Linked DNA regions of Homo sapiens: region 2 is linked to region 1. Evidence: fine-mapped expression QTL. A gene starts in region 1. The other region holds a variant in brackets. All regions are shown on one strand. Distances are from middle to middle. Region 1 holds the start of EPS15L1 (epidermal growth factor receptor pathway substrate 15 like 1). Region 2 has its middle 25 kb from the start of KLF2.

What was found. PIP is the estimated chance that this variant, and not a neighbour inherited with it, causes the effect.
Region 2: its variant is the best candidate, but not a certain one, in a credible set for the expression of EPS15L1 in whole blood (TOPMed, PIP 0.65).

The regions. Positions count from the first base shown.
Region 1 is chr19:16,469,740-16,474,123 of GRCh38, forward strand. It overlaps EPS15L1 (epidermal growth factor receptor pathway substrate 15 like 1), which reads right to left and starts at 2,231. Exons shown (of 24, transcript NM_001258374.3): 1 at 2,174-2,231. The coding sequence starts at 2,206. RefSeq lists enhancers at 1,409-2,320, 1,553-1,702 and silencers at 1,783-2,002, 2,063-2,462.
Region 2 is chr19:16,348,065-16,352,448 of GRCh38, forward strand. No RefSeq gene overlaps it. Among named protein-coding and RNA genes, the nearest start is that of KLF2, 25 kb to the left of the region's middle. The variant G/A (reference allele first, on the strand shown) is at 2,450.

The DNA.
Region 1 (4,384 bases):
ACTTTGCTCACCTTCACCTGGCCATCTGCTTGCCAAGTGTGCTCTGTCACCTAAATCCAACCAGATCACAGCCACCTGCTGCAGGGTGCTTCCCTTTTGCCCCCAACCAAAAATTTTGGAATTATACCCTTGGTTCCCCCAGAGTTATCTGTGAACCCAAGTGATCTCCTGAGCTAGACAGTAAGGGCCTGGGAGGGCCATGCCTCACACCTGGGCCAACAGTAACCCATGGTGTAGATTTTCACTCGAGAGCAAGTGTAAAGAAGTGCTGACATTTCCAAACGAAGAAAACCAGGCCACGCCTTCATTCAACAAATGTATAGGGAAAGGAACAGGAAGAGGCTAAGAAGTCAGTGACCTGGCCAGGCGCAGTGGCTAACGCCTGTAATCCCAGCACTTTGGGAGGCCAAGGCGGGTGGATCACTCGAGTTCAGGAGTTTGACACGAGCCTCGCCAAAATGGTGAAACCCCGTCTCCACTAAAAAAAAAATACAAAAATTAGCCGGGTGTGGTAGCACGTGCCTGTAGTCCCAGCTACTCAGGAGGCTGAGGCAGGAGAATCACTTGAACTCGGGAGGCGGAGGTTACAGTGAGCTGAGATCATGCCACTGCACTCCACCCTGGGTGACAGAGCAATACTCCATCTCAAAAAAAAAAAAATTGGACAGGAAGTTTTAGAAAGATCCACGCCTCCCAAACTGGGAGTGCTTAGTGCTTTCTCATGAAATGATCTTAGGTGATTTTCCCCCGACTCCCGCCTTCCCCGCCCCCCACCCCCTGACTACATACTCTAAACTGTAGCACTTAGCTATTAACACCTATTATCGGTAGGACACTTAACAGTTTACAGAGCACTTTCATGTCAGTAACAAGAACTTGCTAATTAATAATCACCGGGTTTTAGCACTGTTAACTTAGTGACAGTGTTGCAAATTGGCTAGCTGTGCACTTCTCTCTCCTTGGATCAGCTAACCAGTCATGCAAGCATGCAACCGGCCTATCAACTCTCTTTGGGTTTGGAATTCTTAATTGCTGCGGTCTCTACTCCCAAACGTCCAAATCTGGCAGAGATTAAATGATGACAGTAATTATAGGATCACTGAGTGCCTCTCATATGCTAGGCACTGTTCTAAGCGCTTTTTCACGTGCTTAATTTTCACATAATCCCAACACATTTTTATATCTCCATTTTCCAAAGGAAGCAACTGATGGGTGGAATGGCTAAGAGCTTCAACCAAAGGCACAGAGAAATCGGGGCTGGAGCCAAGATTTGAACACATGATCTGACCCTGTGTCCTCACTCTTAATCACCATGCTGTGCTAGATCATTCTAGCAAAATGCTTATATGGTGCTTTGCACAACACAGGTATTCAGCAAATAAAGGCAGCTGTGATTAGCATAACACAGGTAGTTTCTAGTTCCCACGAGTGTCACCTCCAGGAAAGCAGCGACCTTGTCTGTCTGGAAGAATGCAGCGCTCCCAGCACCTGACCCAACGCACATTTGAGGGATGGATAGAAAATGAATGAATGAAAGTCTCTCCCAAATAACAGAGCTGCCTACGCATGGCTCTTTTTCGCATGTCTGTGTCGCGCTATCGATACTGCCCCTTCATAAGCGCATCAGGCGAATTTGAGGACACAGAGAGGCGCCCGGAGACGTACGATCTGCGCCCGGTGCAGGGGTGGCGGAAGCAGCTTCCAAGGAGGCAGGGGATCAGTCTGAGATCGCACTGCTGCTGACGGGTCCGGGCTCCGGCGGGACCCTGCCCGCCCGGGCGCCGGGACCGGAGGGAGACAAAGACTCGCTGGGCCGCCGCGCCGACAGAAACGCTCGCACCCCTCGCCCACCCCTCCGGGATGCAGCCCAGCGCCTCCGCGGGTCCCCGGCCTGGGAGCTTCAGCGGCGGCAGGGTCCGGGCCCTGGGCGGAGAGGACACGCGCTGCGCACCTCCTCGCCTCGCCGGTGCCCGCGAGGGTCGCTCGGGCACGGGAGGCCGCGGGTCCCGGCCTGTCACCTTCAGGGCCGCCTGCCCACCCGCCCGCCGCAAGCCCTTCAGCACGCGCCGCCCCCGCCGCCGCCTGGCTGAGTCTCCCAGCGCCTCAGCCTCGCCGCACCGCTCGCCTCGCGCCCCGCACCCCGGCGCCGCCCCCAGGCCCGCCCGGCCCGTACCTGCTGGGAGAGGGGGATGAGCGGCGCCGCCATCTTCCCGCGGACTCGGGCTCCGAGCGCCGGGGGAACGGGGGCGGGGCTGCAGCCACGCGTGCGCACTGGGACGACGGGAGGGCGGTGCGCAGGCCGCCTGTCCCGGGAGAGGGCGGGGCCGTAGACAGGGCCACGCATGTGCAGTCAGGCCGGGAGGGGCGGGGGCAGGGGCGGGGCCGCCCACACGCAGCCTGGAGGGGCTGGGCCTGAGGCATCTGCGTCTTCCGTGCTCTCTTGCCCGTTCCCCTACTCCTCCTTCCAACGTTGTTCGGACTCTCATGCCGCTGGCCGCTGTCCGAGTCGACCATGCTGTGTCATCCCTCCAGCCCATGCCGAGGCCTGGTTCTCTGTTAGGGATGCCGTCCCCCTGCCAGTGCGCCTGGGGAGGCGGTCGCCCACCCCGCGGAGGGTCGGGACCCTCACCCTGCCCCGCAAAGCGCCCTGTTCCTAGGATCGCAGTGTGTGTGTGTGTGTGTGTGTGTGTGTGTGCGCGCTAATTTGGGGGACCCGCACCCTGCCCCCCTCACCCTGCCCCGCAAGGCGTCCTCCTGGCTGTGGTGGCGGGCACCTGAAATCCAAGCTACTCAGGAGACTGAGGCAGGAGAATTGCTTGAGCCCAGGAAGCAGAGGTTTCAGTGAGCCAAGATCACACCATTGCAATCCAGCCTGGGCAACAGAAGCGAAACTCTGTCTCAAAAATAAATAAATAAATAAGACAAGAACCCACTTGTTGCCAGGTACAGTGGCTTACACCTGTAATCCCAGCACTTTGGGAGGCCGAGGTGGGAGGGTCATGAGGTCAGGAGTTGGAGACCAGCCTGGCCAGTATGGTGAAACATCAATATGGTGAAACCCCATCTCTACTAAAAAAAATACAAAAATTAGCAGGTGTGGTGGTGCATGCCTGTAGTCCCAGCTACTCAGGAGGCTGAGGCCAGAGAATCACTTGAACCCGGGAGGTGGAGGTTGCGGTGAGCCAAGATTGCACCACTGCACTCCAGCCTGGGTGACAGAGTGAGACTCTGTCTCAAAACAAAGTCAAAAACAAAAAGAACCCACTTGTAACTGTTGCTAATCAAAGCATACATTCAGGGCAACTTGAATCTGTGTCTCCTGGACTGCGGTCCTCAACCTTGGCCCAAACTCTCTACTTATATTAACTTTGCCTCAGCTTCTTTTGTTACATCAATAGAGTAATGAAGGTTTTTAACAGTCTTGAGTGCTTTATCAGTACGTATTCCATAAGGAAAAGAGAAGTCCTTCTAGGTACTTCAAACAGAGGATATTGAATACAGGGGATTGAGCCAGGCTCTGTGGCTCACACTTGTAATCCCAGCAATCCAGTTGAGACAGGTAGATTGATACCAGCCTGGCCAACATGGAGAAACCCCATCTTTACTAAAAATACAAAAATTAACCCAGTGCAGTGGCAGGTGCCTGTAATCCCAGCTACTCAGGAGGCTGAGGCAGGAGAATTGCTTGAACCTGGGAGGGGAAGGTTGCAATAAGCTGAGAACTCACCATTGCACTCCAACCTAGGTGACAGAGCGAGACTCTGTCTAAAAAATAAATAAATAAAAATAAATGAATACATAAACGACTACAGGGGACTGAGTATAAAAGTGTTGGAAGTACTGGAAGAACAAAAGAGGAAGGTAAGTTTACCTAAAGATTCATAACTATATGAGGCTGCTAGCCTCTCTAGAGCTGAAAGATTAAAGCAGGGGAGGTGGCTGGGCATAGTGGCTCACGCCTGTAATCCCAGCACTTTGGGAGGCCGAGGTGGATGGATCACCTGAGGTCAGAAGTTTGAGACCAGCCTGGCCAACATGATGAAATCCCGTGTCTACTAAAAATACAAAAATTAGCCGGTTGTGGTGGTGGGCACCTGTAATCCCAGCTACTCGGGAGGCTGAGGCAGGAGAATCACTTGAACCTGGGAGGCGGAGGTTGCAGTGAGCTGAGATCACGCCACTGCACTCCAGTTTGGGCAACAAGAGCGAAACTCCGTCTCAAAATAAATAAATAAATAAAGCACAGGAGGACCCATAACCCACAATCACTGTGCCTACAGAAGGATCCCAGATGTGTTCACCCTTGCTAGCCACAGTTGCCTCCACCATGATTGCGAAAGTCACAGTTGTTGTTGTCACCACCACCTAAGCCACTGGCAGAAGT
Region 2 (4,384 bases), 120 kb before region 1:
GCTGTAGATCATTCGTCATCCTTTTCCAAAACATGGCTTGGACCGGGCAATGTGGGCCCTTGAATTCCAGTTGAACACCAGTCCAAACTGGGTTGTTGGATGCGGAGAAGATAAAGGGTACCCACAAAGAGGACACGGCTCGTTACAATCTGGGAGACAAAACGCAATGGGGTTGCAGTCAAAAGTTGCCTCTTGCGACCAGGTGTGGTGGCTCACGCCTGTAATCCCAGCACTTCGGGAGGCTGAGGCAGGTGGATCACCTGAGGTCAGGAGTTCGAGACCAGCCTGGGCAATATGGCAAAACTCCATCTCTACCAAAAAATACAGAAATTACCCGGGCATGGTGGTATGTGCCTGTAGTTCCAGCTCAAGAGGCTAAGGCAGGAGAATCGCTTGTACCCAGGATGTGAAGGCTGCAGTGAGCTGAGATCATGCCACTGCACTCCAGGCTGGCTGACAGAGCGAGACTCTGCCTCTAAAAGAAAAAAAAAAAAAGTTGCCTCTTTCGGATGGGTGTGTCGGCTCACCCCTGTCATCCCAGCACTTTGGGAGGCTGAGGCTGGAGGATTGCTTTAGGCCAGGAGTTTGAGACCAGCCTGGGCAACATAGCGAGACCCCATCTCTACAAAAAAAAAATTTAATTACCTGGGCATGGTGGTGCACACCTGTAGTCCCAGCTACTTGGGAGGCTGAGGTGGGAGGATCACTTGAGCCCAGGAGGTTGAGGATGCAGTGAACTATGATCGCAACCACCGCACTTCAGCCTGGGTGACAGAGTAAGGCCCTTTCTCTAAAAATAAAGAAACAAAAATAAAATGAAAGTTGCCTCTTGTCTGCTGTATTGGAGGTTTCTGTATCTGCTGATTCAACCAACCCTAGATCGAAACTACTTGAAAAGGGGCCGGGGGCGGTGGCTCACGCTTGTAATCCCAGCACTTTGGGAGGCCAAGGCGGGTGGATCACCTGAGGTTGGGAGTTCGAGACCAGCCTGGCCAACACAGTGAAACCCCGTCTCTACTAAAAGTATAAAAATTAGCCAGGCATGGTGGCGGGTGCCTGTAATCCCAGCTACTTGGGAGGCCAAGGCAGGAGAATCACTTGAACCCAGGAGGCAGAGGTTACAGTGAGCGGAGATTGCGCCACTGCACTCCAGCCTGGGTGACAAGAGAGAGACTCTGTCTCAAAAAAAAAAAAAAGAGGCAGGGCGCGGTGGCTCACGCCTCTAATCCCAGCACTTTGGGAGGCCAAGGCAGGCAGATCACGAGGTCAGGAGATCGAGACCATCTTGGCCAACATGGTGAAACCCCATCTCTACTAAAATACAAAAAATTAGCCGGGCATGGTGGCAGGTGCCTGTAATCCCAGCTATTTGGGAGGCTGAGGCAGGGGAATCGCTTGAACCCAGGAGGTGGAGGTTGCAGTGAGCTGAGATCGCGCCACTGCACTCCAGCCTGGAGACAGAGCAAGGCTCCATCTCAAAAAAAAAAAAAAAAAAAAAGAGAGAGAGAGAGAGAAAGAAACCATTTGAAAAAAAACAATCAAAAGTTGCCTCTTATGTGAAAGATCTGATGGCTAGGAGGGGTCATTGTTCATTTTCTCAGACGTGACCTTGGCATCGAGTATACGTTAGCATGTCAGTCGCCACACGTCTCAGTGACGTGCGCTTCAGGGCACGTGGGCGAAATGGCATCCTGACTCCAACTTGCTCTAAAGTGCTTCTCCAGAGCAAAGGAAGACAGCCATGCGGCAAAGGTGGAAAATCTGGATGACAGTTGACGCTGGGTGGGGGTGTTTACTGTCCTTTTCTCTTCAACTATTATGTTTGGAAATTTTCATCATACATTTGTTCCAATTGGATACTCTATTCTTCAGGAAAGGGCGTGAGTGTCCTTTGCCGTGGAAGAGACTGCCAATGGGAGAGGGGATGGATTTGTGGATTTGATGTTGATTATTTACACAGCAGGGGAGTGTGTGTGTGTGTGTGTGTGTGTGTAGCAGGGAAGGAAGGAAACAGGATTTGAGACTGGCTTCTAACTTTTTAAAGGGTCTGAGGACCTCTTTAAAAATCAGATGGAGGCTGGGCACAGTGGCTCACACCTGTCATCAGCAGCACTTTGGGAGGCCGAAGCGGGAGGGTCACTTGGGGCCAGGAGTTGGAGATCAGCCTGGCCAACATAGTGAGACCCTGTTTCTATAAAAATAAAAATAAAATAAAAATTAAAAAAAATTAGCCAGGGCCGGGCACGGTGGCTCATGCCTGTAATCCCAGCACTTTGGGAGGCTGAGGTGGGCAGATCAAGAGGTCAGTAGATCGAGACCATCCTGGCTAACACGGTGAAACCCCGTCTCTACTAAAAATACAAAAAAATTTGCTGGGCGTGGTGGCGGGCGCCTGTAGTCCCAGCTACTCAGGAGGCTGAGGCAGGAGAATGGCGTGAACCCGGGAGGC[G/A]GAGCTTGCAGTGAGCCGAGATCGTGCCACTGCCCTCCAGACTGGGTGACAGAGCGAGACTCCGTCTCAAAAAAAAAAAAAAAAAAAAAAAAAAAAAAAATTAGCCGGATGTGGTCAGCTACTCAGGAGGCTGAGGCAGGAGGATCACTTGAGCCCAGGAGTTCAAGGCTGCAGTGGGCTATGATTGCGCCATGCACTCCAGCCTGGGTGAGAGAGCGAGACCCCCATCTCTTAAAAAAGGGGAAAAAAAAAGATAAAAAGTTATGAACACTGCAAACCCACATACAATAAAAAACAAACCAGGGCTGGGTGCGGTGGCTCATGCCTGTAATCCCAGCACTTTGGGAGTCTGAAGCAGGCGAATCACGAGGTCAAGAGATCGAGACCATCCTAGCCAACATGGTGAAACCTCATCTCTAATAAAAATACAAAAATTAGCCAGGCATGGCGGCGTGTGCCTGTAGTCCCAGCTACTTGGGAGGCTGAGGCAGGAGAATCACTTGAACCCAGGAGGTAGAGGTTGCAGTGAGCTGAGATCACGCCACTGCACTCCAGCCTGGTGACAAAGCAAGACTCCGATTCAAAAAAAAAAAAAAAAAAAAAAGAACAAAAACAAAAAACCAGCAAATGTGCATTCAGGGGTTCACTGCTTTCCCTAAAAACGTCCCCTCCCCTGGGTAAGAGCTCCTAATTCAATACATGGTTTTCCATTTCTAAGATATCAAGAGCCATCACCTGCCTCTTCTGGGTACGGTGAATATGCAAATAAGCAGAAGACAACAAGAAACTAGAAACCCTGAAGTTTTCTAAGAAACCCTCAATTCTTTTCTCAAATCAGCAAAACGAGCCTCCGCCCCTGGCTGGCTTCGGAGCTCTGGGCAAATGACTGCAGGGAATGAGTCTCAGTTTTCCCTCAGGAAAATGGGCTAACATCCACCCTCTTCATTTACAAGGTTGCTTTGAGTTTCCAACAAGATAATGGAAGCTGAATCGCTGTGAAAATTGTGAAGTCCCAAACCAAATGGTGCCAAAGCTGTGACTACCCTGGAGAGAGGTGACTCAGCGCCTTCTCCAAAGGGATCTATCACGGCAGAAGCACATGGCTTGGGACCTTCAGATTCACTCTGGGGTTTTCCTGCAGGAGGAAGGAAGTATTGGGAATTGCCTCCGGCCATGACCACTTTCAGGAAGCTGCTCGTTTTTGCAGAGAAGATTAGGGGCATCTCAGAGGTTACAAAGCCCACGAGGCCCCACCAGGCCCCAATCCACAAAGCAGGCCCATTCCATGGGCACCAAGAAGACGTCCCCTCCCAACACCCTCATCTCCAGGACTGCAGGGACCCCTCGAGGGTCTGTAACCTGGAAAAGGGGGATTACCAAAGGTTTGGAATCTTTACATTCGCCCAAATCCACCATAAACTTCAGTTTATGGTTTATAGATGACCCTTGAACAACACAGGTTTGAACTGGGTGGGTTCAGTCATATGTGGATTTTCTTTGTTTTGAGCCCGAGTCTCACTCTTGTTGCCCAGGCTGGAGTGCAGTGGTGCGATCTCAGCCCACTGCAACCTCCGCCTCCCGGGTTCAAGTGACTCTCCTGCCTCAGCCTCCCTAATAGCTAGGATTACAGGCATCTGCCACGACACCCAGCTAATTTTTGTATTTTTAGTAGAGACGGGGTTTTACCATGTTGGCCAGGCTGGTCTCGAACTCCTGACCTCAGGTGATCCACTCGCCTCAGCCTCCTGAAGTGCTGGAATTACAGGCATGAGCCACTGTGCCCTGCCTGTATGTGGATTTTCTTCCACCTCTGCCACCCCAAGACCAACCCTTCCTCCTCCTCCTCCTCGGGTTACTCAATGGGAAGATGATGAGGAAGAAGACCTTTATGATGATCCACTTCCACTTAATGGATGGCCAATATTTTTTCTCTTC